Linked DNA regions of Homo sapiens. The protein of the gene in region 1 binds, or shares a complex with, the protein of each later gene. Each region holds a gene or a part of one and is shown in the gene's direction. Other genes may lie near its edges. The genes, in order: FGF2, FGFR2, API5 and S100B.

Evidence for each region.
Region 2: the proteins of FGF2 (region 1) and FGFR2 are in contact, whole or in part, in a crystal structure (PDB 1II4), measured with the Homo sapiens proteins. Residues at the interface, in NP_001997.5 of Homo sapiens: Phe154, Pro155, Pro156, Gly157, His158, Phe159, Lys160, Lys163, Tyr166, Lys168, Gly170, Gly171, Phe173, Arg186, Leu197, Gln198, Ala199, Glu200, Glu201, Arg202, Gly203, Val205, Ser206, Tyr215, Val230, Phe235, Glu238, Leu240, Asn243, Asn244; in NP_000132.3 of Homo sapiens: Glu163, Lys164, Leu166, His167, Ala168, Val169, Pro170, Ala171, Asn173, Asp247, Val249, Glu250, Arg251, Pro253, Ile257, Lys279, Val280, Tyr281, Ser282, Asp283, Ala284, Gln285, Pro286, His287, Ile288, Ala315, Gly316, Val317, Thr319, Thr320.
Region 3: the proteins of FGF2 (region 1) and API5 are in contact, whole or in part, in a crystal structure (PDB 6L4O), measured with the Homo sapiens proteins. Residues at the interface, in NP_001997.5 of Homo sapiens: Asn169, Arg181, Arg223, Lys261, Arg262, Thr263, Gln265, Lys267, Lys271, Lys277, Ala278; in NP_001136402.1 of Homo sapiens: Asp145, Arg148, Glu184, Asp185, Val186, Thr187, Glu190, Glu219, Asp222, Gln225, Asn228, Asp231, Arg237.
Region 4: the proteins of FGF2 (region 1) and S100B are in contact, whole or in part, in an NMR structure (PDB 2M49), measured with the Homo sapiens proteins. Residues at the interface, in NP_001997.5 of Homo sapiens: Arg164, Tyr166, Cys167, Lys168, Asn169, Gly170, Gly171, Phe173, Arg186, Lys188, Asn243, Asn244, Tyr245, Arg262, Lys267, Gly275, Gln276, Lys277, Ala278, Leu282, Met284; in NP_006263.1 of Homo sapiens: Glu47, Ile48, Lys49, Glu50, Gln51, Glu52, Asp55, Lys56, Cys85, Phe88, Phe89, Glu90, His91, Glu92.

What each region holds. Positions count from the first base shown.
Region 1 is NC_000004.12:122,829,824-122,836,846, forward strand, and holds part of FGF2 (fibroblast growth factor 2 isoform 18 kDa), read left to right. Parts: intron 1-7,023. UniProt on the Homo sapiens protein: Acts as a ligand for FGFR1, FGFR2, FGFR3 and FGFR4. Also acts as an integrin ligand which is required for FGF2 signaling. Binds to integrin ITGAV:ITGB3.
Region 2 is NC_000010.11:121,483,422-121,490,444, reverse strand, and holds part of FGFR2 (fibroblast growth factor receptor 2 isoform 1 precursor), read left to right. Parts: intron 1-2,331; coding exon 2,332-2,454; intron 2,455-3,020; coding exon 3,021-3,091; intron 3,092-4,912; coding exon 4,913-5,050; intron 5,051-6,641; coding exon 6,642-6,747; intron 6,748-7,023. UniProt on the Homo sapiens protein: Tyrosine-protein kinase that acts as a cell-surface receptor for fibroblast growth factors and plays an essential role in the regulation of cell proliferation, differentiation, migration and apoptosis, and in the regulation of embryonic development.
Region 3 is NC_000011.10:43,335,992-43,343,014, forward strand, and holds part of API5 (apoptosis inhibitor 5), read left to right. Parts: coding exon 1-3; intron 4-3,249; coding exon of another isoform or gene 3,250-3,287; exon of another isoform or gene 3,288-6,436; coding exon 6,437-6,519; 3' UTR 6,520-7,023. UniProt on the Homo sapiens protein: Antiapoptotic factor that may have a role in protein assembly. Negatively regulates ACIN1. By binding to ACIN1, it suppresses ACIN1 cleavage from CASP3 and ACIN1-mediated DNA fragmentation. Also known to efficiently suppress E2F1-induced apoptosis.
Region 4 is NC_000021.9:46,602,060-46,609,539, reverse strand, and holds the start of S100B (protein S100-B), read left to right. Parts: upstream 1-4,457; 5' UTR 4,458-4,527; intron 4,528-7,116; exon of another isoform or gene 7,117-7,123; 5' UTR 7,124-7,124; coding exon 7,125-7,262; intron 7,263-7,480. UniProt on the Homo sapiens protein: Small zinc- and- and calcium-binding protein that is highly expressed in astrocytes and constitutes one of the most abundant soluble proteins in brain.

The sequences.
Region 1 (7,023 bases):
AGCCCAACCTGGACATAAATTTAAGTACAGTATATTATTTTCTCACATATTGGATGTTTACTGATAGTTGACCAAACCATGAGGAGACCCCCCAAAACAAATAAAACTGACCAGAAAACATGGAGAAGAGTTAATAGTAGCCACAGTTTCCTACTACATTATGGCTCAGATTTCTAGACCTGTTTGAAAAGTTGAAAAATCTATGGTCTCATTCCTCAGACTGTTTTGTCCAACTGACCTGAACATCTGTCACTGGAATTTTTTTTCCTTTGGCATGACACTTTGTGCCTACATGTTTTCTAAACTGCAGGTAACTTTTGAAAGGCCAAGTTCAACCATTATCAGATTTTAACATTTAGTATGGATTAAATTGTGAGTGCAATTTCTTCCCCAAAAGCTGGCCAGAAGGACTGGAGTTTGGGGAGGGATGCTTTGAAGACTGTGATATAAATGATGGGGTCCTGGAGAGGTGCAGGGGAAGAGGAGGCAGAGTGGGAAGCTGTGAGGTAGGAAAGAGAGGAAAATTTTCTAAAAGAAGAGGTAGGAGAAGATGACACAACACAAATGTTTCCAATTTTTCAGTGTTGCTGAAGGTCAACTGTGCTTCACACCTGGGCATTCTCCTGAATTTGCACTCAAAAGGGCCCATTTTCTGGCGTTTTTCTCATAGTCCTGGAATAATCTTCATTTGACATGAGAGTCTTGATAAAAACAAGATGTTAAAAGTGGTTAGAGAGTTTCTCCTTCTCCAGCATGTGCGCTGCACTCCTGCCTTTCTTTTGGCATCCTTAACTTTTGGCAGGCCTCTTTCAATGCGGTGGGAATGGATAATATTAAGTATGTACTCTAAAGTAGCAAGCTGTGTAAAAACATTCAGAAGAGAGAACACTTTATCCCAAGCAGCACGTACAACATGTGGTAGAGTATAGTAAGTGAAATGTATGCTGCTTATGTACACTTAGTATTCAATTTATTCCAGGTGCTCTTATTTACAAAAAAAAAAAAAAAAAAAAAAAATGAGAGTAGTTAGAAGTACTGTATCTACCCTTGGGCTTCTCCCAGGAGGTGACTGCCTGTGTGCCACACTTCTTTGCTTGCAGGCTCCAGAGGACGCTGAGACTTGGAAAGGCAGACCTGCCCACCCCAGTGTGGAGCAGGGGTGGCTTGTAGGTGGGCCTGACCCCTGGGCTCTTTGCTACTGCATGTGTTCCATGCAACCCCAAGCATAAAAACATGGACTTGTGAAATCAAAGGGAGGCTTCAGACCTTCTGGTTTACCCATCTCTTTTTACAGAAGAGGATACTGAAGCTCAGAAAAGTCACCAATTACTCAAGTTCACTTGTGGGTTTCCTCTTTTTTTATCCTGAATGAGCTTCTTACCACCTGGTCCCTTGCCTTCTCTTCCTGCCATCCCTCAGCCTCAGTGCGCTCTTCATTCCACCATAGAGTGTGCCCTGCTGGACCCCACTTTGGTTAGGCTTCCTCCATTTCAGGGTAGTGAGCTGCTAGCCCCTTTGAAGAGTTCTTACTAGTTTACGGGTGCCTCAGGTTGATTTCCTGGGGTTTTGGATAAAGCCACCTTTCCATCTCTTCACTACTGCCTTTGGGGTAAATAGAACCATTGATTTAATAATACACGTACTAGATTCTCTCCCCCCACCTCTCTTTGGTAATATCTGGCAAGTGGATAGCAATAATTTTACTTAATGAACGTGATATTTACTGTAATAAATATTGGGTGCAGTAAACAAATGAAGTCAGAATCTAATAGCTCATTTAATCTTGGAAATCATGTAATCAGTACAGCAATGAAAGGACAATTCATGAGTCATAGATATTACCACACCTTAGGAGCCTTTTAAGATGAGTTTGATGCCAAGTGACTTCAGCCTAGAAAAGGCAATATCCCCTCATGACATGCCCTGAGGGGTTTCATTTGTTTATAAAATGACCGTTATGTAATTAGACTTTGACAATGGTGTAACAATTGGGTTTTAAGTATTCTCATTTTGATTTATGATGCCATTTTATGTGGAAGGACATAATTTTAAAGTTTAATTAGAAAATAAAATGTTACAGATGTAATGAACAAAACAAGAACGGTTCTTTAAATATCATAAGCATAAAATTGACTTTCTTCATCTATACACTGATTCTGAGAACTCATCATCAGTGATGTTGAAAAGACAATTTAAGGTCTCACATTATTGGAACTACTATTTTAAAACCACGAGATGCCTGTACAAGCTGGTAATTACACATGTGCTGTAGTCTTTGCTTGTTTTTCCAATTCTAGTGTTTGTTGATTTTCCAGATACCCTACTTGGGCCCCTATGTCCCGTAGCACACGTCTGTAAGAAGGCTGGCATGGGATAAAAGTCTATGACCATGAAACGGAGCAAGGCAAATCTGTATCTTTGGGGCACATATCTTTTTCTTTTTTTCTTTTTGAGACACAGTCTTACCCTGTCACCTAGGCTGGAGTGCAGTGGCACAATCTCAGCTCACTACAACCTCTCCTTCCTGGGTTCAAGCAATTCTTCTGCTTCAGCTGTGATTACAAGCACCTGCCACCGCACCCAGCTAATTTTTGCATTTTTAGTAGAGACGGGATTTCACCATGAATTTTCCTGGCTGGTCTCGAACTCCAGACCTCAGGTTATCTGTCCACCTCAGCCTCCCAAAGTGCTGTGATTACAGGCGTGAGCCACCGTGCCCAGCCTGGGGCACAAATCTTAACCTCATCAGGATATTCTGTCCAAACAAATGTATTTTGTTCTGTTTTATTTTTGAGTTTGTCCTTTTCTGTGCTCTGAAATTAGGATCTGGTCTAGTACTTAATTTGTATATTGTCAGTGCTCAATAAATAGTTAATGCTTGATTGTTTGCATAATAATTTGGAATAATGATTATCAGTGTAGAGTTTTAGCTGGATCATTAGAAAATGCACTTATGGCACTGTGATTTTAAGTGTTTCCTTGTTGTATCCACTGTTCAGTTAGCTCCTGCTTTCTCTTTTCTCCCTTTAATAATGACCGCCAACAAGGCCTTTTAAGCTAGGTTATGTATAGCCACAGGAATTTAGGAGAGGAGGAAAAGAAAAGTGGCAACTTCCAGGGGAACTCACCCTTTGAGCCATAGACTGTGGTTCTTAGAAGCCAGACCAGTCTCATTCTAAACACCTTCAGAATATTTTTAGTTTGAAGAAATTGGAAGGGCCTGGAGGCAACAGACAGCCAATATTCAGTGTTTATGTCTCATCCAGCTGTCTTCTGTCACTCTTCCTGCACAAGGTGACTTTTGACTTGACCGGTGTATCTTTGATACTTACTCATTTACAGAAATGTATAATGGATGTGTGTGTGTGTGTGTGTGTGTATGTGTGTATTTGTATTTTTATAGAGCTATTGACTTCTGCAATTTAACCTCTAAGATGAATTATCCAATAGAATTCTGAAATGAAAAGTTCACAGATTTTCAAGGTATTTTGGAGATTTAAAAATTGAAGAGAAGCTATGTGAATATTAAGTGTATGTTCCAGATATAATTGAACAATTGAAAGGAATGATCCTGGTTTAATTTATAATTAAGCTATACATTAATTTATAATGAAAACTTGTAATTAAATGATAACTCAAATTAGCCAAGAAAAAAGTATTTTTTAAAAGAAATTTGTACAGAGTAGTAATGATCTGGCTGCATTCTGTGAACAGATTATTCTCTGTTCATAATTTAGGCACCTTAAGATGCTGGCACCTTAAGGTAGGAACCATGACTTCTTTATATAAATAAACATCATAAAAAGCTCAGTACTTTTTACTCAGAGAGTGCTCACTAAATGTCAGCTGATGAGGAAAACATTCTCTGTGGAACTTGCTGTGAAATAACTACTCATGAGGCATATGCTGTATAAAGCTTGGTCAAAGTTTACAGTTTTCTTGGTGTCTTGACATCTGTGTTTAGATACTTGGTCAATCTTTAAATGAAGATAATTATATATAGCAAAGTTATATTTGGGAAACATTTCGGAATTTTGGAGACTGGCTATTAGTTTTTCTTAGAATAATCTAGAGAAAGATGAATCATTTTTCAGGAAAAATTGTTTAGAACTTTTATTGGGAATTCTGATTTCCTTAAAAGTATTTAAGATTTTTATCATGTACTATTGTTGTAGGAAAATCCTGGTTCTTGTCACACGCCCAGGAAAGATTAGGCTCACAGACACTTTGGAGGGTGAGGGGTTATGGAATTTATTGGTCAGAAAGAAAAAAGGAAAAACAACACAGCAAAGCAATAGGGGTTCATATTAACAGGCCCCCATCTCACAGATTGATTCCCAAGTTACCACCCCGAACAGGAGAGACCAGTCTCCTCCCTGCAAAGGGCGTGAACTTCTGTGGCTCCACCCCATTCTCCCAGTGTGCAGGCCATTTGGAGGTTCTCCAGGGACCCCTTTATACTTGGCTGTCCTGTCTCACTATGCAATATAAAACTTTCTCAGGTATGCTGTGCATTGTTTTTCATTCTTATTTTCTTTTGTGAATAATATCCTGGAATCAGTACGTTCTTCTACATCATCTCCTTTTCTTTTTTTGAACTCTTTTAAATTCTAGATTCTGCCCTCAGTATTCCACTTAAATCATTCTTATGAGAGCACCAGTAGTCTTCTAATTTAATCATGTGGCCTTTTCCAATTTTTCATGCTACTCTGACATGTGGCAGTATTGTCTGCCTCTGACTTCTTGATAATTCCTTGGCTTCTATTACATCACATCAACCTGGTTCTCCTTTTGAAACTGCCTTTGCAAAAGTTATATCTGAGAAAATTATGACACTGCCAGAGATATGACCTAGCCCACTCCCCTCCTCTTGCCTTTAGCTTTCAAGCTGCCTTAATCATTTCTGGGCTTAGGCCCAGATAACTTTGGGAGATAGTTTAAAGGATAATAAGCCTTCCCCAAAACTCAACTGCCTTTATAAAGCTAATGAAAGGCCCTCAGGCTTCAGGGGAGGACAGGAATCTGAGTTGTGCTAAGGTGTAGACGTATTAATAGATTGCCACTAGTGCACCAATAGTGGTGCAGATAACACCACTATTGTAGATTGGCCTTTTGAGATATCTTTTCAGGTTTTTTGCATGTCTGACACCCATGGCTCCAGCTGGACCTGCTAAACCACTCCTGTGGCCCCACCCAGGAATGGTTCCACTCAAGAGGACAACTTTGACCCCCTATTATTTCATCTTCAGCCCAATGAATTATCAGTAAGCACCCATTGCATAGCAATCCTCACCCTTTCCCCCAAACTGCTGTTGAAAAACTCCTATCCCATGAGCTGTGGATGAGATTGGTTTGAGTACTAACTCTATCTCCCATGTGGCTTTGCCGGCCTTGTGTTTATTAAACTCTTTCTTTACTGCAATGCTGTGGTCTTTCCTTGTGCAGCAGGCTGGAAGAACTCCTCAGGCGGTTATACTTTTGCCCATCCAACTGTCTTTTTTTCCACTTTCTTCTGTTTTTTTTTTGCATTTGTATTCCCCCAAGGTTCTGTTTTTAGCCTTCTACTCTTCTTTCTGTGTACTTGTATTCCTTCAGAAGATCATGTATTGTCTCTGTCTCTGTCTTGATTCCCCATCTCAATTTCCCACTGCTTGGAGGGCAGACACACTGCCATAGCTTCAACTTAACATACATAAAACAGAACTTAACACCATTTTCTCAAACTAGCACCCTTTCCTCCTGAATTTCTGCTTGTAGTGAATTATTATTCTTGTCTCCAAAGCTAGACACCATGGAATTGTCTTTGATGCCTTTCTCTACTTCTTTCGTATATATCTCTCTAAAATGTTTCCCAGCCATAGTGATTTCCTTGCCCTGCCTCTTGATTTAATGACCTCTACTCTCCTGCAATTTTAAGCACTAACCAGACCTACCTGGCTTTCCTTCTTAAACATGACCTACCTTATTTCTTACTGTTTACCATCCATACCTTCCTGAAGCTGTAGCACTCTGTGCTTTAATTATAGTCTCTTTAATGTGTCATAACGATTACTGTCACAATGATTGGCCTTTCTTCATGTGACTCTTGTTTTTGAAAAATCCTTCTTTTTCTTATCAATTTCTCTCTCACAACTCCTCCCATCCTCACCTTTCTCTGGAAAAATCCTTTAAGATCCAGCCCAACAGACTTCTTTGTGAAACTTTCCTCTACCTTCCCAGGGAGAATTAATGGTTTTTACTGTTTTCCCATATACTTGGTACATAGTCTGAACACAGAACTTCATGCTTTCTGTAATAGTTAGTGGTTTATGTGTCTGGCTTCTGCACTGGGACTGTGAACTCTTTGTAGGCAAGCACTGGATCCCATTTGCTGCATCTATCCTCACACACAGTGGCCACTCAAAGAATGTTTGTTAAATTGAAGATGTACTCAATAAATTAGCCAAGTCTCTTAACTTCCTTTCTGACCTTCCCTTCACGTCTCCTGTCTTCCTTGTCATCTTAGCCTTTAACCAGGCAGTTTTCCTTAAGCTGAAATGTCCTGTCTGTCCTCGTACCTTATCCCATTTCCAGTCATGCTTTGGGCCTTATTTCTTTCACATCATCCTGTATCCATCTTTCCTTTTCTGTGTGCTATCTAAAAATTCTCTCTAATAGCTTGTTGTATTTTAATTTTATGTCCCCCAGTTTTACTGGAAATTCCTAGCTGGCAAGAAATTTTTATTTTTAAAAAATCCAGACCACATTACCCAGTAGTTCTTTACTCTTTCCTATTCTGAGGGTCTGAGGCTGAATTTACTCATCCCAGGGTCCTTTTGGCTTCATTGCTGAATGAGTGACCAGTCTGAGTCCCATGAAAAGGTTCACTCTATATTTGTTGAATGGGCAACAACTTCAAATAAGTATAAATACTATAGTATGAGGCATATAAAATGGTAAATTGAATGCAACAGCACTGTAGTTCTTTTCTGCAAACACCTTTAACATTATTCAAGGGAAGCAATAAAGGCAAAGCGTAGTCAT
Region 2 (7,023 bases), on another chromosome or scaffold:
CGCCTATAATCCCAGTACTTTGGGAGGCCGAGGCGGGTGGATCACTTGAGGTCAGGAGTTTGAGACCAGCCTGACCAACATGGTGAAACCCTATCTCTACCAAAAATACAAAATTAGCCTGATGTGGTGGTGGGCACCTGCAATCCCAGCTACTTGGGAGGCTGAGGGCAGGAGAATCACTTGAACCTGGGAGGCAGAGGTTGCATTGAGCCAAGATCGTGCCACTGCACTCTAGCCTGGGAAACAAGAGTGAAACTCCGTCTCAAAAAAAAAAAAAAAAAAAAAAAAAAGAAGGAAAAGTCGTAATAGCTAGATCTTTCTGAGACCCAAGAGTTAGTGTCAAGACAATAAATTAGCTGTTCTGCAGCAAGTATTTAATATTTCAGTGTTTAGAATCAGTGTATGTGGCACATTCAGGCTGAGGCCAGGTGTTAGGAGAAACTGGACTGAGAACGTGGATAGACGGGCATTGGCCATGGTAGAGACCAAGAAAGGACATGACTAGTCATTTCAGGAACCTTAGTCATGGGACATGGAGGAGGTACAACAGGGCTAAGTTTGGAAGCGTAGAGACCCGCTAGACGGGCAGTGTGGAAGTCTCAGGGGGAGGGGCAGACAGTGAAGATGGCCTGGACTAAGGCATTAGCAGTGGGAAAGGCATGGTGTGGACACATGGGAAGGCATTTTGGAGTTGAAATCAACAGGACTTGGGAGGAATGTGTAAAGAATACCGGTGTATAGCTCTCCGATTAAGAGAGACAAAGCATTGGAGGAGTTGAAACCTTGAATTTGAGACGTCAAGGGAATGTCAGTGGGGAAGTGTCCCATAGACAGTTGAAAATGAGAACATGGGTCTCAGGAGGGAGGTCATGATGGAGATACGAACTTGCGCATATTTTGTATGTGTTTAGAATTAATGCCTTGAGGATATATGGAAATACATAAACTTAATGGAACAATTCCTCTATTTGAAGGGACAGAAAAAGAGAAGAGCCAGCCAGAGATTCTAAGAGGGCAGGGAGAGACAGAGAGGCAGCTGAGGGAAGGGGACGGGATAAAACTAAACAGAGGGGCTGGGTGTGGTGGCTTACACCTGTAATCCTAGCACTTTGGGAGGCCGAGGCGGATGGCTCACCTGAGGTCAGGAGTTCGAGACCAGCCTGACCGACATGGTGAAACCCCGTCTCTACTAAAAATACAAAATATTAGCCGGGTGTGGTGGCAGGCACCTGTAGTCTCAGCTACTCGGGAGGCTGAGGCAGGAGAATCGCTTGAACCCAGGAGGCGGAGGTTGCGGTGAGCCAAGATCGCACCATTGCACTCCAGCCTGGGCGACAAGGACAAGACTCCATGTTAAAACAAAAAAAACAAAAACAAGAAAACCTAAACAGAGGGACCATTTTAAAAAACAAGCAAGAAATCAATAGCATCTGAAGCCACAGAGGAGGAACAACTGAGGAGTTGGAGGACGTCATTTGCGTCTAACAATTCAGAGGTTCTTCATAAGCTTCAGGAGAGGCAAGAGTGGAACACAGATTAGAATGTTTGAGAAGTGACCAGGAATGAAGAAGACACAATGTTGGATTTTAACCAACGCTTCTGAAAATTCAGGTTTAAAGGGCAGGAGAGCAAGTGTTGAGAGAAAAGATTTTAGGATGATCAGATACAGATCTATAAGCAGCTGAAAGAAAGACACTGGTGTGGCTGGACAACTGGAGGTAGAAGAGAATATGGTTATTTAGTCTACCTTCGCTCTTCAAAATGATCATTCTATTTATTTATAATTCCAAAACAAATACATGTCGTGATCCAGGCTCTCCGATGATCCCAGTTGACCTGTCTTCTTAATCTTAGAGCCACACTGCGTTTTCTTTTCTTTTCTTTCTTTTTTTTTTTTTTTTTTTGAGACAGAGTCTCACTCTGTCACCCAGGCTGGAGTGCAATGGCGTGATCTCAGCTCACTGCAACCTCTGTCTCCCAGGTTCAAGTGATTCTTGTGCCTCAGCCTCCTGAGTAGCTGGGACTACAGGTGCACACCACCACGCTCGGCTAATTTTTGTAGTTTTAGCAGAGATGGGATTTTGCCGTGTTGGCCAGGCTGGTCTCGAACTACTGACCTCAAGTGATCCGCCCACCTTGACCTCCCAAAGTGCTGGTATTACAGGCATGAGCCACCGCACCCGGCCACACTGTATTTCTTATAGTATACCGCAACTGGTTTTTAACATCAGCTATATTTTCTATCTGCATTTTAAGAAATGAACATATTTCCTTTTTGTTCTGGCGGTGTTTTGAAATTAGTTATTTCTCTTGCTTCTTTCTTGATTTCAGTGTATTCATCGAGATTTAGCAGCCAGAAATGTTTTGGTAACAGAAAACAATGTGATGAAAATAGCAGACTTTGGACTCGCCAGAGATATCAACAATATAGACTATTACAAAAAGACCACCAATGTAAGTCGATGGCAGTAACACAGTGGGCAGGGGCGGGGGTGAGGCTCAGAATGTTCCAGGAAGAAAGGCCGTCAATGTTGAGAGCTGGGTGGGATGGCTGGGGACCCATTCCCCTGCCCCGATTCCCGTTCTTTTGACTTACTATTCACAAACTCTCAATATGCAAATTTAGCCTCTATTATGTCAATTTTAGTAAATGTGAAACACTTATATACAGAATAATCAGCAACCGCTAGGATTTTCTTATGGTTCTCATCAAGAACTTTCATAGCAAAAACTACAGCTTGGAAGTTACTGGTTTAATTTTTGCCTAATAACTGGTCAAGGAGCATCTGTGTGCTAGGGAGATAAAGGATAGAATCCAAGGAGATGGCATTTTATTAACGGCCCAGACCTGTGCATCTCACACATTGTTCATGGTCCTCATTGGGACTGATTTCTGCTCTATTGACTGACTAGTAAAAACCGAGAATATCAGCTCTTAAACAGGGCATAGCCCTATTGAGCCTGCTAAGATAAATTCTTTTAAATATATTTAGTTTTTGCATTTTCCTCTACATTTGCAGGGGCGGCTTCCAGTCAAGTGGATGGCTCCAGAAGCCCTGTTTGATAGAGTATACACTCATCAGAGTGATGTGTGAGTAACTCTCTTTTCTCTGGCTTTTTCCTGGGCTTGAGCTGCAAAAATACTGTACGTACTTCACCTTTCTTCCTTCTTTAGTGGCTGCTGCATTTCACACATTCGTAGAAGGTGCAGGAGCTGGCCTTAGAAAGGACAGATTTTATGGTAGGCTGATAACCAATGCTCTGTTACTAATCTGCCTGGCTTCAAAGAGCACAGAAGGTGGAACTGCTGACCTCCCCCTGCCAGAGCGGAAGTCCTTCCCTTGAACATATTCATGGATGTGCAACTACAAAGCGGTTATCTAATTCGCCAAGCTCTTGGCATGTTCTTCACTCCATTAAAGGAGTAATCCTGGAGCTTTTCCCACTTACGAGTAGTTTGTCATATTTCCCTCTAACCCAGATTTGTCCTTAAAGAGTGGAGCTGAGTGAGATGTGGTCCAGGCTGGGGACCTCCACAGGGTCTACTCTCTATGTTTATCCCTCAACAAAAAGGTCTGATCTTGCTTTGGCATCCTTGATAGCATTCTAGAAACACAGTAGAATATTTCTATTATGATATACTGACAAAACCAGTGGGGTCAGGCTCCAACTGATATTTTAGATTTGAAAATTCAGTTGAAGGCTGTGTGCAGTGACTCATACCTGTAATCAATCCCAGCACTTTGGGAGGGCAAGGCGGGTGGATCACGAGGTCAGGAGATCAAGGCCATCCTGGCCAACATGGTGAAACCCCGTCTCTACTAAAACTACAAAAATTAGCTGGGCGTAGTTATGCGTGTCTGTAATCTCCACTACTTGGGAGGCTGAGGCAGGAGAATCGCTTGAACCTGGGAGTCAGAGGTTGCAGTGAGCTGAGATTGTGCCACTGCACTCCAGCCTGGCAACAGAGCGAGACTCTGTCTGGGGAAAAAAAAATCACTTGAACTATTTTTTATTTGTATGAGCAGGAGGAGTTCTGGGTAGGCATTAATTCTGTGCTACCATAGTTGGTCCTCTCAACAATCCTAAAAAAAAGACATGACTATCCCATTTTTGCTGTGAGCAACTGAGGCACAGAGGCTGTTCTGCCTGTCCTGTGCTGCTGCTTTTGCTCTGTAGAAAACTGCGGAGTGAAACACCACCATCGAGTACAGAAGGTTGAGTTTCCAGAACGACCATGATGTAGCTAAACCTGGCTCTCTCAGCTTGCTCCTCCCAGAGATTGAGCCTCCTGAACTTGGCACAGGAAGTCCAAATCTCTGAAGAGTCAAGTGTAAATAAATTATGGCCTGTGAGATGTGTTCAGTTTTGTTGTGTGCAACTCATCTGGGGCATGTGATTCCTCATCCTAACCCCAGCCCAGTGCTGATTGCCTTTGCGATCTTAGTAAGTTCCAGAGCCTCTGTGCAGCAGATGTTCCGCCAGCCACACAGGGCAGCTGTGATCCTGCGGAGTTGGCTTGCTGGCCTTATTCTGTCAACTGCCCATCCTGGTAGATCACAACCCTTGGGTCAGGCACATAAGGAGTTGGAAAGGAGCGTAAAGGCTTTGAAACTGAGAAACTGAGATCCTTGCATTGCTAACACCACATTTAAGACAAGCAGCTCTATTCCAGAGTGATGGCAGTTTGCCTTTTTGTCTATTGATGGAAAATTCCATCAGCACATCCCCGTGTCATCATCATTCGGGGATGCTCTTGCAGGGCAGGAAAGAGCACATAGGAGGAACTGCAGGAGGGCCCATTTGTCTTTGAACTTCAGAAGTGAGGAGGTGTTTATGTCTCAGCTGGGCGTGTTTAGGTTTTGGCAACGTGGATGGGTTAGTAATGCCGTGCTTTCTCCTTTTGTTGCAGCTGGTCCTTCGGGGTGTTAATGTGGGAGATCTTCACTTTAGGGGGCTCGCCCTACCCAGGGATTCCCGTGGAGGAACTTTTTAAGCTGCTGAAGGAAGGACACAGAATGGATAAGCCAGCCAACTGCACCAACGAACTGTAAGGGCTGTTGTCTTTCCTGCCGGTGCCCCAGTGGACTTGCCACACCAGTAATACCTCTCCTGATGTATCTCGTTTTTGAAGGCCCCTGGTTTCCTAAACATGCTCTAAGAAGAATGGCTGAAGCTCTCTGGGCTCAATCCAGAGCTGGGATACATAGCGACACCGACAACCATTACTTGTCTGAGAGAAAGAACATTATTCTGAGTATGGAGAGGGCTTTGGATCAGAGGGTGTCTGGCTGCCTGGCTGAGGGCTCCTGACTTTGCAGAGCCAGCAGGAGTGGTCTTCCTGGGCCACTGTGCTGCACCTTCTGCGGTCTCCCGTGGAGTGACAGGAAGACCCACGGGTCAGGAAACAAGCTAGAAAGCCGCGGGGCCGCCCTGCAGGGTGTAGGATTAAGGAACCAACACAGCCTTTCCCTGGTGGTTGTGCCTGGCCCCCGCCTGGCCCCATCGTGGCCAGTAGAGAATCGGTGTTTCCAGAACTTCTCGAACCATTGAAAATTGCCATTACAGATTGACGCCAACCACATTTCCTCAGAGCGAAGGAACTCGTGTTTGGTTACCTAGGTCTCACTTGTGTTTTAGTGCAGAGAATTAAACATGTGTCCAGGCGCCCTCCTTACTGTACCAGATCTGCCTGTAAAACCATGAACTGGTTTGTAGCAAAACCTGCCTCACACTTTAAGTGGAGTTATGTTGTGTTTGTGACGTGTGCCTGGTGCAATAGAATCAGTGCTTTGAAAGGAGTCTCTCTGCCTCCTGCCTCAACCCCTCCAGGATTAACTAAGAAGAGTGATTGTCCCAGAAACTGCGGTCTATTGTGTATCATTTCATGGGGATTTTATATCAGTAATCCCGTGAGTGCTTTTCGGTGTACCGTGGATGTCTGATGAATGGCCACATTTTATAGCATATTATATAAAGGCATTTATTGTGCTCTTTGTCATTCCTATTGTTTTTTTTCTTTTGTAACGTAGAGGATCTGTCGAAACCCAAAATCAAGATAAGACCTGGGAAGCTAAGCCTATCTAAGAGTTAATCAGGAAGTTAGTGTGCAGCCCAGTGGTGGCAGATTAATTCATCAAAAACTTGAAGTTGTAGTTTTCAAATTTTATTTAATTTTTTTTTAACTCAGGAAGCTGTGTCAACTAGAATCATTAAGACCCAAAGCACCGGGCAGATAAATAGTGGAGCTGCTTTGGTGCTGGGCAGGGTGTCAGGGGAGGGAAGACTGGAGACCAGCCCATGGAAATACGCATTTTCCTTCAGCCTCCAAAGCATCTTTAGGGTGTGACGCCATTGTGAGATGTCACTGTGGCCCAGGGTTACCAGGGAAAACACATAGCTGTGTCTTTCTTGATGGCTTCGATGCCTTTCTAACATGTTTTTGTAAGTCAAAGTGCCTTTCGGAGGAACTGGCAGGGAAGCTTTTGGGAAAGTGATTCATGACCCCCTAATCTAGTTGCTTGGAAGGTTCTGATGCATTTTCCTAATTTACACCACGTCCCCATATTGCCTATTAAAACTGACTATAACCACGTACCCAGTGCATATGAAATTAATTCAAGGAAATCCATTTTTCCCAGGTACATGATGATGAGGGACTGTTGGCATGCAGTGCCCTCCCAGAGACCAACGTTCAAGCAGTTGGTAGAAGACTTGGATCGAATTCTCACTCTCACAACCAATGAGGTAAGAACTTCCTTCTAGAAGCCCCTTGTCCTTGGTTGTCTTGTGAGACATGCGTAGTGTTTTACACACACACTCCCCTGTTGGCTGTTGGTTGGAGTCTGTGGTCTTGTTTATTCTTTTTCCATAGGGTCAGATAGTTCAACTATGGGTTCCTCTCAAATCATGATTTTTCTCAGAACTTCATTTTGTGAGTTCTGACTCATGAAACCAAAGACAGAGGGACATCCCCGAGGCTGCCTTCAGTGTAGCTGCTGGTGGAGCAGTCCGGGGTATGTG
Region 3 (7,023 bases), on another chromosome or scaffold:
ATGGTGAGCGTTTCCGTTTGGGTACAAGGAATATGAGAGATTAGGCAGAAATTGTGTTATACTTTATTTTAATTAGTAATTATATACAGTGTCATGGTTCTATCCAATGACTTTTCTGAATTAGCTTGGAGAACTAGGGCTGTTGAGGAAATGATTTATCCCATTCCTCTCTCATTCACCCTTCTGGGCTGACTGTATTGAACATGCAACATTAAACAGTAAGCACTTAAAGAAAAATATGCCTCTTGTATTCAGAGGAACCAACAGAAACAAAATAAGTTGACAGAACCATTCTTTCCATGCTTTCCCAGTTGCAGCTTCAAGGCAAGGCATTCTGTGCATTCTCCCTCAGGGATGGGTATAGCTTCTGAGAGATAGTATAAATGCTCTTTCTTGGACATAGTCAGCCTGCTGCCTATACTCCCATCTTCTGTAGCTAGTTAAAAAGAAATAACAGAAGTGGAGTCAGATGTTCAGGCATCATCTAGCAAGGAAGATGTGTTCTATTGCAGTCTCTCCCTCTGCCCAGAATGCAATCCTCCTATCAGTGCTTCCTATTCCCCTTTAGCCATTAGAGCCAGGAGAGCTTCATACCAGTCCATCCTCTCCCACGGCTGTCGAATCAAAAGTAAAGTTTATCTCTCATTGGCTTATTTCCTCATGGATCTTTTTTTTTAAAAGAATGGAGAGAAATATCAGGTCAATTCCTTACCTTGCTTAAGAAGACAAAGTTTAGGCCGGGGGCAGTGGCTCAAGCCTGTAATCCCAGCACTTTGGGAGGCCGAGGCAGGCGGATCACGAGGTCAGGAGGTCGAGACCATCCTGGCTAACAGGGTGAAACCCCGTCTCTACTAAAAATACCAAAAATTTGCCAGGTGTGGTGGCGGGCGCCTGTAGTCCCAGCTACTCTGGAGGCTGAGGCAGGAGAATGGTTTGAACCTGGGAGGTGGAGCTTTCAGTGAGTGGAGATCGCACCACTGTACTCCAGCCTAGGCGACAGAGCAAGACTCCGTCTCAAAAAAAAAAAAAAAAAAAAAAAAGACAAAGTTTAGGCAGGCATGGTAGCTCACACATGTAAACCCAACACTTTCGGAGGCCGAGGTGGGAGGATCACTTGAGCCCAAGAGTTCGAGGCCAGCCTGGGGAACAAAGCGAGACCCCATTTCTACAAAGAAAATTTAAAAATTAGTTGGGTATGGTGGCACGCACTTATAGTCCCAGCTACTCAGGAGGCAAGAGGCAGGAGGATTGCTGAAGCCCAGGAGGCCAAAGCTACTGTAAGCTATGATGGTGCGACTGCACTCCAGCTGGGTGACCAAGCAAGACCCTGTCTCTTAAAATAAAAAAAAAGTAGATTCTGAACCATATAATATCTGTAATTTTGTTTCCAAGGTGAGAGAATTGTAACATTAAATTACTTCTATAACAGTTGAATTCTTCTAATGTCTGAACAAACAGATTATATAGAAAGCCAATTTTAGACTGAAATGAACCCTTCCCCTCCAGACTCTGAGACACCTTTACTTTAAGGATGATCACTGAACTCTCTTATTTACATAACAGTATGTAAATGTGCATCTCCTTGCCTCTTATCTGAAAAATGAGGTAAGAGCTCTTACAGCCTTCTAATAACAATATTTGTGAAAGTATTTTGTAAGGGGAAAGGATTCTCCGTTACTTGGTTGAATCACATGTTGTTCTCTGTCACTTGTATGATTTAATGTGTCTAACAGTACCATTCTTAAAATCAAAAGTTATCTCAGATACTGGGAGAATGGCTTTAATGAAAGTAATCAATAGCTATGGCAATACAAGAATTGTACTCCTTTTTATTGGACAAGTCAATTTGATTTTACATGAAGATTCTATTGTGTAAAACTCATTGCCTGCTCAATAGTGAGAATCAGGTGATATAATGCATGTGGAAAAAGAATGTGAAAAATCTAACACTTTAGATTGTATACAGTGTTTTTTAAAAAGACACAAAAAAACTGTCAACATGAGAAACATAAGCAAAGTTTTACTCAAGACAAACATCCACGAGTCACAACTTCAGTTATTCCCAGTCTTCAAAATAACAGAAGGGCAAAGCAAAGTAAACATGCAAAAGCAAACTAAAATCTGATTCTTCTTATTAGAAAGAAGAGTGAATTTCTGCAATTATTTTACATTTGAGAATTTAATGTGATCAGGTCATAGGTATTCTCACAACAAAATTTGAAGCATTTGCTTGACTTTATTTCACCTGTTGAAACAAAAGCAGTTCTCAGTATCCAAGTTTATTGCTTTACTAACCAATGTCTCTGTTTTTTGCTTTACAAACATGGTATTGGTTCTCACAAATTAGTTCAACTTCCCGGTGCATTCATAAACATATACCCACGTTTAGTTTTCCTTCCAGTGCACAAAGTTTCCCCAGTAACCTAAAAGTACTAAATGTTCTACATTTTGTGACTTGTGTTCTTTACTTTTTGGAATATAAAAATAATCCTTAAAGTTTAATTTAAACTGGGAGCAGTGAATTAAAAAAAAAATGTAAGCTTGAAACTATTGAAAAGATCATGAAAATGCAGAGTATTTTTTAGGATGAAGCTCTTCAAAAAGAAGAAAATTTGGTGAATCTCTGTACTATAGAAATGGCTGTATCAATTGGAGGTAAAAAAAAAAAAAAAAAAAAAGCATTTGCCAATATAGAAAAGATAACTACGTCAAATAGTACCTTCATACAGTGTATTTAATTTCCTCATTAGGTACAGCTGAATAGAGTGTAACCTGAATTCATATTAAAATTGAAAGAGTGGATTGTAATAGTCTTTTAGCTTAAAGCTAATAATAGTATCTATGACAGTGTTAAGTGTGTTGGTGTGAATAATGAGTATGATAGGGTGAAATGTGCAGGCATCTGCATAGATGGCTCTAAGTCTAAACAGTCAAAAATGCAGAAGTCATGGCCCACAAAAGGCTACTGCACTACCTTAATGCTCCCATAGTTACTGCATCTGTCTCTGGGAGCATCTTGCCCTCAGAGAAACCACCTCTGATTTTCTGAATGTGTTCACTAGGATAATAAACACAATGATTTCATTTTCAAATGGTTTGCATACTAATCAGCTTGTAAAAAAATGTGTCATGGCATAAGAAGGTGACTTTGAATCAGACCCATTCTATTATACAGATAAATATTAGCCAAACTGGGGAAAGGTCCAGTGAGTTTCCTGTCTCAGAATTGAATTACTTTTCTTTCTGCAGAAAGGGGGGTCAAAAAAGACATCAAGACATCACCCTAGTAAGACATAATGGCAAAAAAATTGATTGCAAAATTGACTGAAAAGGTATTTTTCAAGCCTCCAAGATTGTGGATCAAAAACAGCAAAACCAAGCTCTCTCTATTGTTGCTAACAAGATTGCTATAATGAGGAAGTTTAGAAGTTAATGAAGAGATTTGATCTCATTTACATATGATTAAAAGTCCAGCCTTGTGATAACTTCGATCAGTTTTCTTCATGGGACGACACCTTTGAGGACCATTTCTCTGTGGCTATAAAAGTGACTGACCAATGGATGAGAGACTCTTGTTCTGTACATCACAAGTGACTTGATTTTTCAGCAAAAGATATGCTTAGTTTATATCAGTAGCTGAAACACACTCAGACGCACATACACACATAGCACCTATTTGGCAGTATTCTGAGAAGCTTATGTAGCTGATAAAGCAGTGAAAAAAACTCAGCCTTTAGATCTACATTTGTGTGAGTCCAGTTGCGTGAAATACTGTGATCAAAACAAAAATTGCATATTTATTGCATTCAAAGGGACATTTTGTAGTCTAACCTGATTTTCGAAATTGATTATTGATAATTTAAGATATTTTTCATAGTTATATGAGTTACCTTTAGTAATGATAGACAATAAATAAAGAACTAAGAAGTTGTCATGAAAGTCATAGCCAGAGCAGGTAGATAAGAGAAAGAAATAAAGGGCATCCAAACTAGAATGGAGAAGTCAAATTGTTCTCTATGCAGATGACATGATGTTATATATATAAAAACAAAACTAAAGACTCTACCAAAAAACTCATAGAACTGATAAATTTAGAAAAGTTAGAAGATACAAAATTAGTATACAAAAATCAGTAGCATTTCTATGCATGAACAGTGAACTAGCTGAAAAAGAAATCAAGGTAACCCCATTTATAATAGCTGTGAAAAAAATCTAGGAATAAATTAACCAAGAAGGTAAAATATTTCTATACAAGGAAAACTACAAAACACTGATGAAAGAAATTGAAGGAGATACAAACAAATTGAAAGACACTCCGTACTCATGGATTAGAGGAATTAATATATTTTAAATGACCATGCTACCCAAAGTGATCTCCAGATTCAATACAACTTCTATCAAAATAACTGACATTCTTCACAGAAATTGCCACCAAAAAAAATTCTTAAAATTTATATGGAACCACAAGACCCCAAATAGCCAAAGCAATACTGAGCAAAAAGAACAAAGCTGGAGTTATCACACTACCAGATCTCAAAATATAAATCAAAAATGTAGTAACCAAAACAGCCTGATACTGGCATAAAAATAGATACAGAGCAATGGAACAGAACAGAGAACCAGAAATTAATCCACGTATCTACAGCCAACTGATTTTTTACAAAGGTGGCAAGAATACTCATTGGAGGGACAAAAAAAAAAGGGACAGTCTCTTCAATAAATGGTGCTGAGAAAACTGGGTATCCATATGCAGAAGAATGAAACTAGATCCGCACCTCCCACCCTGTACAAAAACCAACTCAAAATGGATGAAAGACCTAAATGTAAGACCTAAAACAATAAAACTACCATAAGAGAAAACAAGAAGCACTTCAGGACATTGGTCTGGGAAAAGATTTTATGACTGAGACCTAAAAGCACAGGCAACAAAAACATGGGATCATATCAAATTAAAAAGCTTCTGTGCAGCAGAGGAAACCATCAACAGTGAAAAGACAGCTTACAGAATGGGAGAAAATATTTGTAAACTACTCATGCAACAGAGGATTAATATTCAGAATATAGAAGATATTCAAACATCTTAATAGCAAAACAAATCTAGATTAAAAATGGGCAAATCATCTGAACAGACATTTCTCAAAAGAAGACGTACAAATGGCCAATAAATGTATGAAAAAATTCTAAACACTAAGCATCAGGGTAATGCACATCAAAACCACAATGAGTAAGTTGGAAGTTCAGGGAAGAGATTTTATCTCATTTACATATGATTAAAAGTCAGACATTGGCACCCCCATGTTTATTGTAGCACTATTCATTAGCCAAGACATGGAATCAACCCAGAATCAACAGGTGCATCAACAGGTGAATGGCTAAACAAGATGTGGTATTATACACAATGGGATACTATTCAGCCATAAAAAAAGAATGTCCTTTCATTTGCAGCAACATGGAAGGAACTGGAGGACTTTATAGTAGGTGAAATAAGCCAGCAATGGAAAATTAAACAATGCATGTTCTCACTCATGTGGAAGTTTTAAAAAGTTAATCTTATAGAAGTAAAAATTAGGACAGCGCATACTAGAGGCTGAGAAGATAGGGGGAAGGAAGGGATAGGGAGAGATTTGTGGGAGGATGCAAAATAACATAGGAATAAGCCCTAGTGTTGTGTACCACTATAGCATGACTATAGTTAATATATACTTTAAAATAGAAGAATATTGAATGTTCCCAACACAAAGAAATTATAGGTGTTTGAGATGATGGATATGCTTGTTACCCTGAGCTGATAACTGTACATTCTTTGTATCAAAGTATTCTACCCCACGAATATGTAGAATTATTATTCGTGAATTTGAAGAATTAAGTTTTTTAAAAAGTGTACGGGCTGGGCACAGTGGCTCACACCTGTAGTCCCAGCACTGAGGCAGGACGATCCCTTGAGGCCTGCAGTTTGAGATCAGCCTGGCAACAAAATGAGGACCTGTCTCTACAAAAAAAAAAAATAGCCAAACATGGTGGTGTGCATCTGTAGCCCTAGCTACTGGGGAGTCTGAGGCAGAAAGATCACTCTAGTCCAGAAGTTCAATGTTATGGTGAACTGTGAACGCACCACTGCACTCCAGCCTGAGCAACACAGCAAGACCCTCCAAAAAAAGTGTAGTTATCGTAACATCACCTTGAAACAACTTTGTTACTGGGATACATTTAATTAAGCAACTACCATGAATGTAGTCGGTACCTTGCCTTACGTGCTTCAGTATATATGTTGTTCTTGTTTTATGTACAGGCTAAATTTGTAGATTGAATAGCAGAATATTAGTTCTGTTCTTATAGGGCCTACTGCTGTATTCAGAGTTATGAGCTACGTTTCTTCTGCGTTTGCTGCACCATGAAATCCTAAGCAAGACCTAAACCCTTGTTCGCTTTTTCGTAGAGCAGAGAGGAGCCTTCAGGGGAAGTAGAGGTGGCCGAGGTTGGGGCACACGAGGAAATCGTAGTCGGGGAAGACTCTACTGAATAAGACATCAGCATTCTTCAGCATTGTCATGAGCTTAATATACTTAAATTCTACTACTCATTGGATTGCCGGGGATGTCCCTTTAAACAGACTGCTGCCTTCAGCTAAAAACTTAATGTTCTTTATACCTTTGTATGTATGACCTACTTTTGTAACAGACCATGGTTGTGTCCAAGGTAAAACCACAGTGATATTTTTGGATGCTTTGTCTGCAATCTTGACTTGTTTTTGCAGTATCATTATTCAGACTTCAAATTGTGAATCTTTTAAACATCTTGATAATTTGTTGTTGAGAGCTGTTCATTCTAAAATGTAATGAAATTCAGTCTAGTTCTGCTGATAAAGATCATCAGTTTTGAAAGGTTACTGATTTTCCTCTTCCCTCTTAGTTTTTTACCCAATATATGGAGAAGAGTAATGGTCAATCTTAACATTTTGTTTTAATTGTTTAATAAAGCTGCTGGGCAGTGGTGCAGCATTCCTACCTAGTGTCATAAAAGCAA
Region 4 (7,480 bases), on another chromosome or scaffold:
GCTGTTACATGCACACCCAACTTTATGGCCAGGTAGACCAGATAGCACTTAGGCTGCATGGTCTCCTGATGTCCCATGGTTATGGCCCAAAAGCAAGCCAGATGCTGATTCTCAAAATGAGATCAGTTAGCTGCAGAAGAGAACGTAGACTTACTCCAAAATCCCAGAGCTCTGTGCTGTAATTCTCCTATGGGTGCTTGTCAGAGGGTCCACACTGCATTTCAATGTGCCACAGACACTTCAAATATCACTGGATCTACCGAATCCTATGAGCAAAGTGGTAAAGCAGCTTACATTACAGCCTAAACTTTCTCTGACCCCCATTTGAAACTTCCAGCCTCATAGGCTGAAAGTAGCACATGCAAATATAATAAACGTTGTATCTAAAATCCTCAAAGCCCAACTGAATATTGTGTTTCTTTTTCACAGGAGGTGGCGCAAAATACATCAACTTGTTTTTCACTTGGAGGGGATATTTCAACGTATTCCACACCTCTGAACCTGCTAGAAACTTCACTGAGGTGGAGGGCCCCTAAGTTTTGTGGAGATCATCTCCCACCTTTGCTACTTCCTCTTTTTCAGATTCAATAAGCATAATATTGTCAATATTAGTGGACCAGTGTAATGTTGCGTGAACTGACAAGATGACTAGATCTCTGCAGACAATATCATTGCTTAGAGCAGAAGAACTGGCATGTCCTTCAGGCAACACTGTGAGTGTATACTGTTCACCCTGTCAGGTAAAAGTAAACTGCTTCTGGTGGTCCTTGCAAACTGGTTTGAGAAAAAAGCATGAGTAAGATCAGTACCTGCATGCAAAGTGCCAGAGAATATGTTGATTTTCTCCAGCAGAGATTTCTCATCTGGTACAGCAGCTGTAATTGAAGTCACCAGCTGATTACATTTGCAATAGTCCACATTCTTCATAATCCATATCGTTAGGGAAGCAGGCGCCTAGGAGAGTCAGAGTAATGCCACTTTAAGTTCAGCTGCATTTTGAGATTAACAAGGCACATTTCTTGCAGTCAAAACCTATAGACCTAAGATGTTTATAGCTGAGGAAACAGCTGAACGATACTTGCAAGGACACACTGCTACAACAACAGAGAGTGCAGACATCCCAATACCCAAACACTATACGCTTTCAAGATAACAAGAGCTATGCTTTAACGTACGCACACACTAAAATCTTAAGGATAGTTTTCTTTGAATCAATAGAATAATAAATTTTGCCACGCTGTCTGCTCGCCTGCATATAGTCACAGCTTAGTTTAATCTTTACATAGACAAAACAGCTATATATGCACTTAAAGACAGTGCATTCCTCTACTTGCTTTCTGAGGATGCCCTACTCTGTAATGGAATGTAAGAGCTTTCAATAAACTATCTCTTCTCACTTCACTCTGCAACTCACCTTGAATTCCTTCCTGCGTGAGATCCAAGAATCCCCTCTTTACATCTGGATCGAGACCCCTTTTTCTGGTAACAATATGAGTTCTGCACAGGCCAAAGTGGCCAGTTAAATGGGTTTGTAAGAAGTGTCACAGTGCCTGCTTATTTCAACCCTTTAATGGTGGCATTAATCTCCAAAGCTCTTTCAGAGATTCAGTATTTCTGGATAAGAAGGGGAAGTTCTGGGACTTTCACTAAACTTCTCCTACCATCATGGTCCTCATCTCATACGTAAGAGAGCCAGTGAGGGGATTTAGCTAGTGTATGTTTGTTTCAATTATACAACCAGGAACTGAAAAACTAACTATAGGGAGAATAGTGTACCAACTGGGCCCCCTGTGAGTCGGTCTCATGTTAGAACCTCTATCAAGTGAAGAACTGACCATCACAAGTTTCTGCTTTGACTGGTGAGCCACAGTGCCATTTTTGGTTCCCAGGAATTTATGTCAATTGAGGCAATCCCTGAGACATCTAGGTTACTTCCTTTTCATTAGTTGATGGCTGCAGGACACTTCAGAAAAGGTGTGGAAGAGGGTTTATGGTATTCTTTCTCACTAGCACAGATTCTTTCTCAAGGGGCCTTGGCTTCTCCCTTCAATCAAGATGCTCTAGGTCTGACCCAACTTAGGTCTGGAAACTCGGAGAGAGCCCATGATCTCCACTGTGGTGATTCAAGTTAGGTACTTCGGTGACCAGACCTAGAGGTTTTCCTGTTGTGTGGATTAAAGACTACTCTAGCGACTGTCCATCTCTTCATTCTAAGGAACACTGTGAGCAATTCACCACTGCCAAAAATCTCTGTGGACCAAGGCATTCTGATTATCGGTGTGTTCCTTCTGCTGTTTATGGCTGACATGCCCACCTTGTCTTAGCCTGCTACTCTGAAATATTATCGTCCCGCTGAAATCAGAGGTCTAGTCTAGCAATCCACATGGTCATATGTAGGCTACAGACCATGGAACTTTTCAGGTGTTCCACTCACTCAATAATGCATTTCTCATTACTTAGCGAAGGGTCTTCCTGTGGAATGTAGCTGCAGGGGGTGGGTGAATGTGGGAGTCACACATGATTGGATCTGGTGGCTGTCCAGTCTAATGGGATAAGATTAAAACTGAGGGGTCAGGACAGGTAAGCCAGGGTGATCAGGAAGTGTGAAGGTCAGGGAAAAACACCCAGAACAACCCTGCAAAGTAGGGACTACGGTCACCCCTTTCACAGAAAGGCTTAGGAATTTATCCAAAGTCAAACCACTGTTAAATGGTGGAGCCAAGATTCAGACCCAGCAATTGTAGGAATCTGTGGGAAGCTGGTGAGGTTGTATCCACGAGCTCCTGGGGAGCCTGGGCAAAGAATACCATCCTGGGGCCCCAGAGCGCTTGAAAGCCCTTTTCCTCCCTGTGGCAGATCCTCTCTCTCAGCCTGCTTCCAAGACCTGGGAACAGGGTGGACCCACGGCCCCACACTTGCCATCCCAGGAAGCTGCAGTGTGCAGAGGGCAGGCCCGGCTGGGCCCTCCTGCTGAACGCAGTGCCCTAAGCACAGGTGTACGGTCATTGCATGAGTGGATTTCAAACTATTTTTAACCCCTGCAGGAGCAGGCTAGAGCGTTTTCTATGGACACTGAAGGGTTAATCCAGAGCTCAGGCTGCCACTCTGGGGAAGTGGTCAGCACTTACAGGAATGGTCCCTCCAACATCTGAGCGAGGAAGGGGCACAGAGCACAGTTGTGCCTTCCTTGGGCCTGGGCAAGCTCTGTGCTTCACAGAGCAAGCCTGTGTCAGATCCTTCAGCAGAGACCACAGCCAGGGGTGGTGAAGCCGATGAGGAAGTGAGGGCCAACCACACTGCTCAGGCTGTTCCTCACAGGAGGCTGGGGCAGGCTGAGCCACGCAAGACCACAGCTCTCAGCCCTGTGCTATTTCCAGGGCACACTTACAGATCCTGAATGGTAGAGAACGTCCTGGATAAAACAATGACAGCAAGACAGCCATGTACACAGATATCTTGTGGGAAACCCTTTCACGGCCACTTTGAAACTGGGTTGGGAGAAGGACGTGATGCTGGGTCAGGCATCCATTGGGGACCATGGACATTTTTGGAGAGTTTGGGCCAATGTTCTTGTGTAATTTGTCAGAAGGAACACCTACTTCTTCATTCTTGTGAAGAAGAACCCATAAACTGGCCCCCGTGTTCAGAGGCTCCAGTCGAGCGAGTTGAGGGGACAGCTGGACTTCTCCTTCCTCAGGCTGGCTGGAGGCTTCAGCAAGGGGGCACACCGTCCACACGCCTCTGTAAAACAGCGTTCGAACGGGACATCTCTAAGGCATCGTCCAACTCTGAGAGTCTGTGACCTTCCACCCTGGGGTGGAGGGAAAGGCCTTGGGATACAGTCCACACATCACGTTTTCCCCTAAAAGTACCACCCGTTTTAGTCCCTGCAGACACTGGCCTCAGCAGCTTCTCTGAGGCAGCCCCGTTGAGCCCAGGGCTGACCACAGACAAGCACTACTGTCCACAGAACTTCACGCCCAGTGGGGCCAGACTTGGAGGATGGCAGAGGAGAGAAGCTCCAGGGGCCTCTCCATTAGAAACCAACTTGCAGGCCACTTAATCTCCTATGCTCAGCCTGTACTTGGAAGCTGCTTGTTCTTGGCTGCACATTTGCTTTGTTTGAATCAATTAATCCAAGTCTCTCTCCTCTCCCCACCCCCAACCTTGCCTTTAGGGTGACATCAATATTCATGTAATAAAGAAATCGCACAAAAAGCTGACTCCCCACTTCCTGCCCTACAGGCCCTTTTTTCTTCCTCAGCCCATGTGCAATCCTGGCTCCCAGCAAGTCCCCGGGGCTGCTTGGTCAATGCAGCCCTGTGTGCAGGCCTGGCAGCCCTGCCACCCCCGCCTTCGGCTCCCATTGGCTGCCACGGCCTGCAGTGGGCTGCACCAGGGTTCATCCATCCTCCCTGGGCAGAGGGAATAAGAGGCTGCCTCTGCCCACCAGTCCTGCCGCCCAGGACCCGCAGCAGAGACGACGCCTGCAGCAAGGAGACCAGGAAGGGGTGAGACAAGGAAGAGGTGAGAAAGAGCCAGGCCAAGAGGACGCTCAGGAAGAAATGGTTCTTTTCTTTTGGGTGGAACGGAATGGAGGGGTAGAAACTAAGTGGTAGCTTAAAAAGCCCCTTTAGGACAATTGGCAGCATTTCAGAAGTGTCAATAGGATGATGTGTTTTAATCTCCACATTACTGCTGCTTTGTGGACACCTGACTGCATCAGCCCTAGACAGCTAGAGGTGTGTTTTGCCATAAATCAGAGAAACGTCAGGTTTCATGGCCCAGAAGTGATTGTTGACATTTTCCCAGCGGTACTACAAATACTGCCTCTTCTGTAACTATTTGAAGAGTAAAGATTTTGCTTCCCACTGGGGCTAAAAATGATGGAGAACCTAATGCTAGTTTAGTCCTATATCATAAATAAATGCTTCCCTTTTCTCCTTATATTTCTTCCACCGCCCTGGGTAAGTAACTCTTCAGTTTTCCAGTTTCCCTCAGTTTGAAGTGCCAGGGTCCCCACAGCCCCAGGACGCCACTCAGAAATTACGTAACAATTACAAATAAATTGGGTCAAAGAAATCGGGGTTTTGGTGGGTTTTAACTTTCCTCAGTCTCACAGTTTCTCAGGGAGGTCGAACCCCTTCTTTAGAGGGATCCTCACACGCTAGGTAACTTGTCTTTCTAAGGAGTTAAAGTTCAAAAGTTCTCTTGTTCTCAATATTAAAAGATTAATGTAGGACATTCAAAGAATGTGAGAAAGAAACGGACATTTATTTCCATTTCTCTTAAAAGATAAACTATAAACCATCAACTATTTCTTAGGTCAAAGGGAAAAATTTAACAAGAATTTAATTGATTTGTAGTGTGGTTATGAAGAAAACCATATTTTCTAGTGGTTTCTATTAGTGTTCTAATATATGGGATACATGTTTTATGCCTTTCCTTTGTAATAATCCCATTAGTCACAATTCATAGAAAAACAATTTAACCTCCTTTTCCCCAAATCATCATGGACTTTGAGGAGCATCAGAATGATGTAAAAGTGTCTTGTTTTGTTTAAAAAAATACACACACATACAAACATGCATATATCAATAATTGAAAACTTGAGTGCAAAGAATAAGAAAGCATGAAATGTTAAAGATTTTAATCCATCTTAATTGTTCTATTTGTGAATTATCAAATTTTTAGGGACTCAAGAGCAAAATAAAGTACACTGATTATTAATAGAATGACTTTAGCAAAGATCTGGCCAGTATAAAAAAATCTTCAATCCTGTTTCCTTCGGAGGATCAGAAATAAATAAAATAATTCCAAATTATTTTTAAGATGTAAGTTATATATTCAACATGGGAATGATTTTTCAACACTATTTGATTTATTAATTTGTTTTTAATTATGACAGCGCAAACGTTCTTATTTAATGATTAGAACTCAAGGCCAAAAGCTGGTAAATTTCTCTGACTGCGCATCTGTTTTGTGAAACAACTGACAAGGCAACCTTTGTAAAATGCGCCTCATTCCCAGACTGACCAGATATTTCCTTGGTTCGTAGGCTGTGGCGTAAGGTACTTGCTGTGAGGGAGGTAGGGGGGCTCTTACTTTGACAGCTGCAGAGAAACACCTATTCCTGCCCCCACCCCCTCCCGCCGTCCCAGTCACTGCAGTGAATGAGCCACCCTTTCGGTACACTGGAGGTGGAATGCAGGCTCAGCAGCTCAGCTTTCTGCTGGATTCTGTCCCTCCCTGCGACAGAACCACACCCATTTGATCAGTTAAACTTAGGATACATTTTTTTTTCCTGGTAGATCAAATAACTTTCACTGTTATTCTTCAAAAAGATTGCGGCAATTCTACCATATTTATTTTTCCTGATGAATTTTACAGCTGTTTTTGTCATGTCACCCATCCAAAAAAATTCCATTGTTTTTATTAAAAATGATTTAAATTTACATATGAATTTAAAGGAAAAACTTCCTACATTTTATGTTCCTCAGAATCTCTTGGAAGGACCTACGTTTTTCTTCCTAAACTTAGTCTTAGATCACATGTTATTGCTATATGCATAGGATATTTTGCACTGTATTTTCTACTTCTTTACTGATAGAATATAGGAATGCTATTGATTTTTTGTCTTCTTATTTTGCTCCTAGTCACTGTCTCACTTTCAGATTGATTTTAACAGCTTGCAGTTGATGGTTTGCTCACCTGCACTCTACCACCTCATCTTGGAGCCTTGCAGGAACAGAGAGGGACCCTGTGGGGATTAATTCAGGGGAAATTAATCCCTGAATTCCCTTGCTGCTCTGCCTCTGTATTTTTGCCAGTTTCCCTGTTGGCCCAACCCAGCCAGAATTCAGAGGGCATGGGAATATATCCCCGTGGCCCACACGGACAGAGAAGGCAGGCCCACAGCTGTCTAAGAGGCCGGTGGAAGGATTATGATAAAAGTGCAAATTCCCAGAATGCCCCTCCAGGCCATGCCTGCTGCTCTGAGCTTGAAAAGAGTGCCAAGGCCATTCCATCCCCCTTGTCTGGGTTGAGGTCTGTATTGATAACATATGAAATGTTTTAGGATGAGGTATAGATGAGAAGGCAACTTTCCTTTGCGAGCCCCTAGGATGTCTGAGCTGGAGAAGGCCATGGTGGCCCTCATCGACGTTTTCCACCAATATTCTGGAAGGGAGGGAGACAAGCACAAGCTGAAGAAATCCGAACTGAAGGAGCTCATCAACAATGAGCTTTCCCATTTCTTAGAGGTGAGTCTTGCTTTTTAAACTTGACACTTTCTCCATCTCCTCTTAAAATCCATCTGTACACTGGCTTTATCTTCTCAGCTGCCCTGAAGGTGATTTCATTTCCCTTCCAAGACTCCTGGGCTGCTTCTGCAAACTTGTTTGAGTAACGGAACCCTCAGTGTGGGGCTGGCTCAAATGAGCCCCTTGTTTTCATTTCCTTATCAACCATCTTGTGTACA